Linked DNA regions of Homo sapiens: region 2 is reported to be linked to region 1. The links are microRNA targets in miRTarBase. Many come from high-throughput screens and were not tested one by one. Region 1 holds a microRNA gene; the other region holds the end of a gene's coding sequence.

Region 1 (3,274 bases):
GCGGCGGCGGCCTGAACAGTGTGCACCACCACCCCCTGCTCCCCCGTCACGAACTCAACATGGCCCATAACGCGGGCGCCGCGGCCGCCGCCGGCACCCACAGCGCCAAGAGCGGCGGCTCCGAGGCGGCTCTCAAGGAGGGTGGAAGCGCCGCCGCGCTGTCCTCCTCCTCCTCCTCCTCCGCGGCGGCAGCGGCGGCATCCTCTTCCTCCTCGTCGGGCCCGGGCTCGGCCATGGAGACGGGGCTGCTCCCCAACCACAAACTGAAAACCGTTGGCGAAGCCCCCGCCGCGCCGCCCCACCAGCAGCACCACCACCACCACCATGCCCACCACCACCACCACCATGCCCACCACCTCCACCACCACCACGCACTACAGCAGCAGCTAAACCAGTTCCAGCAGCAGCAGCAGCAGCAGCAACAGCAGCAGCAGCAGCAGCAGCAACAGCAACATCCCATTTCCAACAACAACAGCTTGGGCGGCGCGGGCGGCGGCGCGCCTCAGCCCGGCCCCGACATGGAGCAGCCGCAACATGGAGGCGCCAAGGACAGTGCTGCGGGCGGCCAGGCCGACCCCCCGGGCCCGCCGCTGCTGAGCAAGCCGGGCGACGAGGACGACGCGCCGCCCAAGATGGGGGAGCCGGCGGGCGGCCGCTACGAGCACCCGGGCTTGGGCGCCCTGGGCACGCAGCAGCCGCCGGTCGCCGTGCCCGGGGGCGGCGGCGGCCCGGCGGCCGTCCCGGAGTTTAATAATTACTATGGCAGCGCTGCCCCTGCGAGCGGCGGCCCCGGCGGCCGCGCTGGGCCTTGCTTTGATCAACATGGCGGACAACAAAGCCCCGGGATGGGGATGATGCACTCCGCCTCCGCCGCCGCCGCCGGGGCCCCCGGCAGCATGGACCCCCTGCAGAACTCCCACGAAGGGTACCCCAACAGCCAGTGCAACCATTATCCGGGCTACAGCCGGCCCGGCGCGGGCGGCGGCGGCGGCGGCGGCGGCGGAGGAGGAGGAGGCAGCGGAGGAGGAGGAGGAGGAGGAGGAGCAGGAGCAGGAGGAGCAGGAGCGGGAGCTGTGGCGGCGGCGGCCGCGGCGGCGGCGGCAGCAGCAGGAGGCGGCGGCGGCGGCGGCTATGGGGGCTCGTCCGCGGGGTACGGGGTGCTGAGCTCCCCCCGGCAGCAGGGCGGCGGCATGATGATGGGCCCCGGGGGCGGCGGGGCCGCGAGCCTCAGCAAGGCGGCCGCCGGCTCGGCGGCGGGGGGCTTCCAGCGCTTCGCCGGCCAGAACCAGCACCCGTCGGGGGCCACCCCGACCCTCAATCAGCTGCTCACCTCGCCCAGCCCCATGATGCGGAGCTACGGCGGCAGCTACCCCGAGTACAGCAGCCCCAGCGCGCCGCCGCCGCCGCCGTCGCAGCCCCAGTCCCAGGCGGCGGCGGCGGGGGCGGCGGCGGGCGGCCAGCAGGCGGCCGCGGGCATGGGCTTGGGCAAGGACATGGGCGCCCAGTACGCCGCTGCCAGCCCGGCCTGGGCGGCCGCGCAACAAAGGAGTCACCCGGCGATGAGCCCCGGCACCCCCGGACCGACCATGGGCAGATCCCAGGTAACCCTCGCGCCAGCCGGGCCTGCTTCCGCCCGGCGGCCTCGCCGCGCCGCGAGCCTGAGTTTCTTTCTTTGCCGCGTACTTTTCCCCGTCTTCCCGCGGGGGCGGCGGGGGCGCGGCGCCCAAAGCCATCTTGACGGGCGGCCGCCTCCCGCCGCGGTCGGGGCGCCCCGGGGGCCGGCGCGCTGTCCAGGCCTGGGAGGGCTTCGCCGGGCCGGGCCGGGCCGGGTGGCTTCTACCCCGCCGGCCCGCACCCGCGTCCCCCCCCTCCCCCAGGCCCGGGAACGCGAAGCGAGATCCCGAGGCGCCACCCGCGCGGTCGCCGTTTGGGGCGGCGGGGACCGTTCGGGTGCTTTTGTAACAAATAGGCTCTCCCGGCCAGGACGGCTGGGGCGAAGAGCCACCCGATCGGTTCTGGGAGCGCCCACAATGTGCTTTAACGGGGGAAAGAATGAGGAACTTTCTCACACCTTTAGCCACAGCACGTTCCCTCTTGGCTTCCGAGGTCCAGGCAGGGAAAATAGGTTAGCTTTGTGACAAGCGAGTGGGTTTTTCCTACTTAGGGAGAGCCATTCAGAGACACTCGGTGCGGGCTTCGAGCTCGAACGTTTGCTGGTAGGAATAATAACAAAATTTACAACGACATGGAGGTGCAATATTGTAAAATACATCGATTCGTTCCTTAGAATAGCCAGGGAAATCCATTATTGGGCTTACGGGCTGCTTGCAGGGAGTCACCTTCAACAGGCAGGCTATGTGAAAGGAGCACGTTCCGGATCAATTGAACTTATTTTGATCATGGATTAGGCATGCATTTTATTCAGCAAATCCAGTAAGATAGCAGACCAGTGAAAATTGATCTTTTGGGATCGTATTTATTTGGATTTTCTTTATTTTGCTGTCACCCGAGTCCTACAGCGCTGTTAGGAAGTGTCCTGCACTCTTGCTGTTTCTTGCTAGTAGGCTGAGCCTAAAGACTGACTTGATCTCCTTTGCAAGGTTTGGAATTTGAATTGTGGAGGTAAACTGGCTGTAATAGTCTCCAGACAGCTGCCTCTGAGTTGACATCTAATCTGCCATCTGATTGGCTCCCCTCTCACCATTGGGCATTTAGCACTGCTGATGTAAATAGAAGTGCTGAGCAGTACAGTCACAAAAATTCTTGCCACAAATAATAACTGAGCTCTATTACAAGCAAATGTAAGGTTCAGTATTTAAAGCTGAAACTATTATGAATCATAGTTATTAATAAGAGGATCAAATACAGAAAAACAGTTCGCTGGTGTCCAGTATTGGGCATTTACAAAATTCAGATCTTTGATGATAGTCTTAGAATATGCACATTACATATATCATAGACTTTAATTGGAGGCTGAGGATAAGGCCATTGAAAAATAAGTAAACCACGAATTTTACCAATTTTTGGATTTGTAAAGCCTTTATAAAAGTCTTCCCTTTACAAATTCAACTATGGAAAAATTTGAATTCTGTCAGCACACGCAGCTTAATAAAACCTTAAAATTTTTTTAAGATTTTGATAGGCAGCAATATATTTTGGTGATGTGTAATTCACCTGATAAACAAGATTTAAGCTTCATTTTTTTGTGATTTATCAGTTCTGACTGTTCAAAGATATTTGTGGATGAGGAGTTTTGGTTAGAATTGACATATTT
Region 2 (3,000 bases), not on the chromosome of region 1:
CAAGTCCTTAAACAAGCCATGTTTCCCCAGGAAATTCAGGCACCTGTTTTCCTTTGTTTCATTTCCTGGCTTATGACTGTTCTGCCTGGACAAGGCTGTTCCATCTTTCGCTCTCCAGCAATAGCATCATCCTGAGCACTCTGTGGGTCTTCCTTCACCTTCCACAAAGCAACTCTTTCTTGGATTGATGGAGTCCGCTTCTGGGATTTCTTCCAAGCTGCTGAGATCTCTTTATTTCTAAAGGAAACCTAACAGTGGCCTTCCTTACTATCACACCCTCCCCTGGGACTGGCATTACCATCCTATGTGTGGAGAGCACCTGGGACAGATATAATTTAAAAGAAAGATGCCAGGGTAAGGCTTGGGAAGTGTAGAAATCATATGGGCACCTGGTCAGCAACATGAGGAAATGGAGGGTGTGGTGTGACGGCCTAGGGGTCAGGGAAACAATATGTTCTTGTCAGGCCCTACACCTGCTGGCTGACCTGGACCAGCCATTTAATCCCATGGGCCTCTGCTCCCTCAACTTTTAAAGGAAAGTGTTGGATCAACTGAACTCTAAAGTTTTTTTCAGTTTATTATTTCATGATCCCTAGTCAAACACTGATACCCCAAAATAGGATTTTCCTTCCTTCCTCTGAAGATTATTTCAAAAAATCCAAGAGGAATAACAGACTTTCTGGATGCTGCTCTACCATGTTCTTCTGTTAAATCAAGTTCCTTTTCCCGCAATTGAAGGATGTTGCAGATGTGAAACGTGTGGTAAAGAACATTGTCTTTGCTTTCAGGTCCCACCTGGCCCTTTCTGGCCGTAGCTGGTACTAGATTTTGATAAAAGTATCCTAATACTCAGGGACTATTTCTCAAAGACCAGAATCCCAAGAGCCAGAGACTGGATGAGAGACACAAAGCACAAGACAGCAATTTCCTTATGGCTCTCCAAGCAGGACACGCATGAGACCCTAGTAACCAGAAGCAAAGCTGGCAAAACTGTCTGCAGGAACAGAGAGGAAGGTAGAAAATTAGAGAAAAAAGGAGTGAAGCAACTTAGTGGCTCCTGACCCCTCCCAGATCTCCCTTCTGGGAACCCACTCCCCTATTAGGGAGATTTTCTCAGACAGTTCCTGCAGCTCCCAGGCTCTGCAGGGGCTAGAACCAACCACAGAAACAAGACCAAGGCACTGCTTCTCAAGAAGAAACTGACCTCATGCACTGTCTGAGTTACCTCAGCTAGAGAGGGTGAAAATCATCAGTTATCATCAGGGCAACAAATTGCTTTCTCCTAGTTCATCCTGGACTTACAATATGAAAGAGACATTTCCCAGCCCAACAGACAATACATAATTCCAATTAGCAAAGACCTCCAGGGTTGAGTGGACTCCTAGTGTTTTTTTGTTTTGTTTTGTTTTTTTATGACACGACTGCACGATGTGGATCTGGTCCTGCCTATGTGGTTGTTCTCAGGTACAGGAATGTGTCTAAGCATGGCCTCCAAAGGTCCCTTGGAAACCCCTGGCTGGTAGGGAACCCGCACTGTGCCATCAGCTACAGTCCACAAAGGTAAATGAACAGATGCCACCAGGAAATGAGGATGGACTGGCTCTGTGTGATCATAAGCTCAGAGCATCAGGGAAATGGTCATTTGAAACTAAGAAAACAGATTCAAATTATTCTGAGAAAACCGACTATTCACAGACTCGTGTCCCAGGTTTCAGAACCCGAAAATCTCACTCCTGATCAAAGGTTGCTGCTGCTGCTGCTGCTGCTGCTACTGCTATATGTGTGTGTGTATGTGCGTGCGCGGGTGCACACGCATGTGTGCGTGTGTGTGTGTGTGCGTGTGTGTGGTGCTGAAGAAGTGGAGGTTGCTTGGCCTTCTCTACTGGGTGTGGCCCTGATGAACTCACTGAGTGCTGAGGCTGGCTACAATGTCCTATCAGAGGGGAAGTAATACCACAGGAGCACATCAAGACTACAAACATAAAGAACCATGGACACTGATTTCATCCAAGTTCTACAGGGAGTGAACAAAGAAAAATAAATAAACAAAAGAAAGAAAAGAAAAATAGCCCTTTGTAGTAAAGGGCATGCTGGGAAGGCAAGAGCCAGAGCCGCCTCCCCAGAGCATGCTGGGAGGAGGGGCACCAGAGCCGCCTCTCTAGAGCATGCTGGGAGGATGGGCACCAGAGCCGCCTCCCCAGAGCGTGCTGGGAGGATGGGCACCAGAGCCGCCTCTCTAGAGCATGCTGGGAGACGGACACCAGTACATCTCCAAGGACTGCACTTCCCCCGACTCCCACCCCATTCCCTCACCCACCCCCAACCCGGAGACTAGAGGAAAGTCTGTCCAAAGATGACTGTGGAATAGGGAATGCCATGGTTCTCTGCAGGTCCCCCACACTATGGGGGGTTAAGTCAGCAAGTAGGGAAAACAGTCAAGACGAGGAGATGGAGAAACAGAGAGGCAGGAGAGAAACAGGGGGCTGACAAAGATGGAGGGGCCATTGTGTTGCCGGAGGACGAGGGGCTGCTAGCCGGAGGCATTGATGTACAGCTGGCTTTTGAGGATGTAGTCGATGACCGGCTGGGACAGGTAATCCACAACATGGCCGTCCCCATGCTGCAGGGCCAGCCTGCACAAGAAGAGATGACAATCAGATGGACATCCACACCCAAAGCAAGTCAGGAGGACTGGCATGCCCCTGTCTCCCCAGCACCCCATTTGTAGCCTTTTCTCAGGTTGAGTAAATAGTTCTGTATTAGGAAAGGCCCTCTTGCCTCCACAACTCCTTCCCCACCTTGGTGACATCATTCATCGTGGTTCTGCCACTTCCTAGGTGAGAGGCCTTGGGAAAGTTATTTAAGCCCCTCTGTTCTTCAGTTTTTTTCCTGTAAAATGAGGGTAATATCTGGGCCCCTCTCATTTAGTTATTCAAAGGATTAAATGAGTCATTATGCAAAGCACTTAGAAGAGTGCCAGACACACAGTGGGCATCTAAT

The links. The annotated mature microRNA hsa-miR-4466 reads GGGUGCGGGCCGGCGGGG and lies in region 1 at 1,840-1,857, opposite strand. An mRNA with a match to its seed (bases 2 to 7 or 8) in the 3' UTR can be bound and repressed. Matches are read on the target gene's strand: a 7mer-m8 pairs with bases 2 to 8, a 7mer-A1 pairs with bases 2 to 7 and ends in A, and an 8mer does both.
Region 2: miRTarBase lists NMNAT2 as a target of hsa-miR-4466. The part of its 3' UTR that is shown has no 7-base or 8-base seed match.

Annotation. Positions count from the first base shown.
Region 1 is chr6:156,777,871-156,781,144 of GRCh38, forward strand. It overlaps MIR4466 (microRNA 4466), which reads right to left and starts at 1,861; the gene lies at 1,808-1,861. It overlaps ARID1B (AT-rich interaction domain 1B), which reads left to right. Exons shown (of 20, transcript NM_001374828.1): 1 at 1-1,601. It overlaps LOC115308161 (a long non-coding RNA gene), which reads right to left and starts at 648. Exons shown (of 2, transcript NR_163974.1): 1 at 376-648. RefSeq lists silencers at 212-281, 532-761, 982-1,031, 1,102-1,791, 1,822-1,991 and 1 more and an enhancer at 725-1,260.
Region 2 is chr1:183,250,111-183,253,110 of GRCh38, forward strand. It overlaps NMNAT2 (nicotinamide nucleotide adenylyltransferase 2), which reads right to left. Exons shown (of 11, transcript NM_015039.4): 11 at 1-2,633. The coding sequence ends at 2,531. It also overlaps a transcript of LAMC2 not described here. Among named protein-coding and RNA genes, the nearest start is that of LAMC2, 65 kb to the left of the region's middle.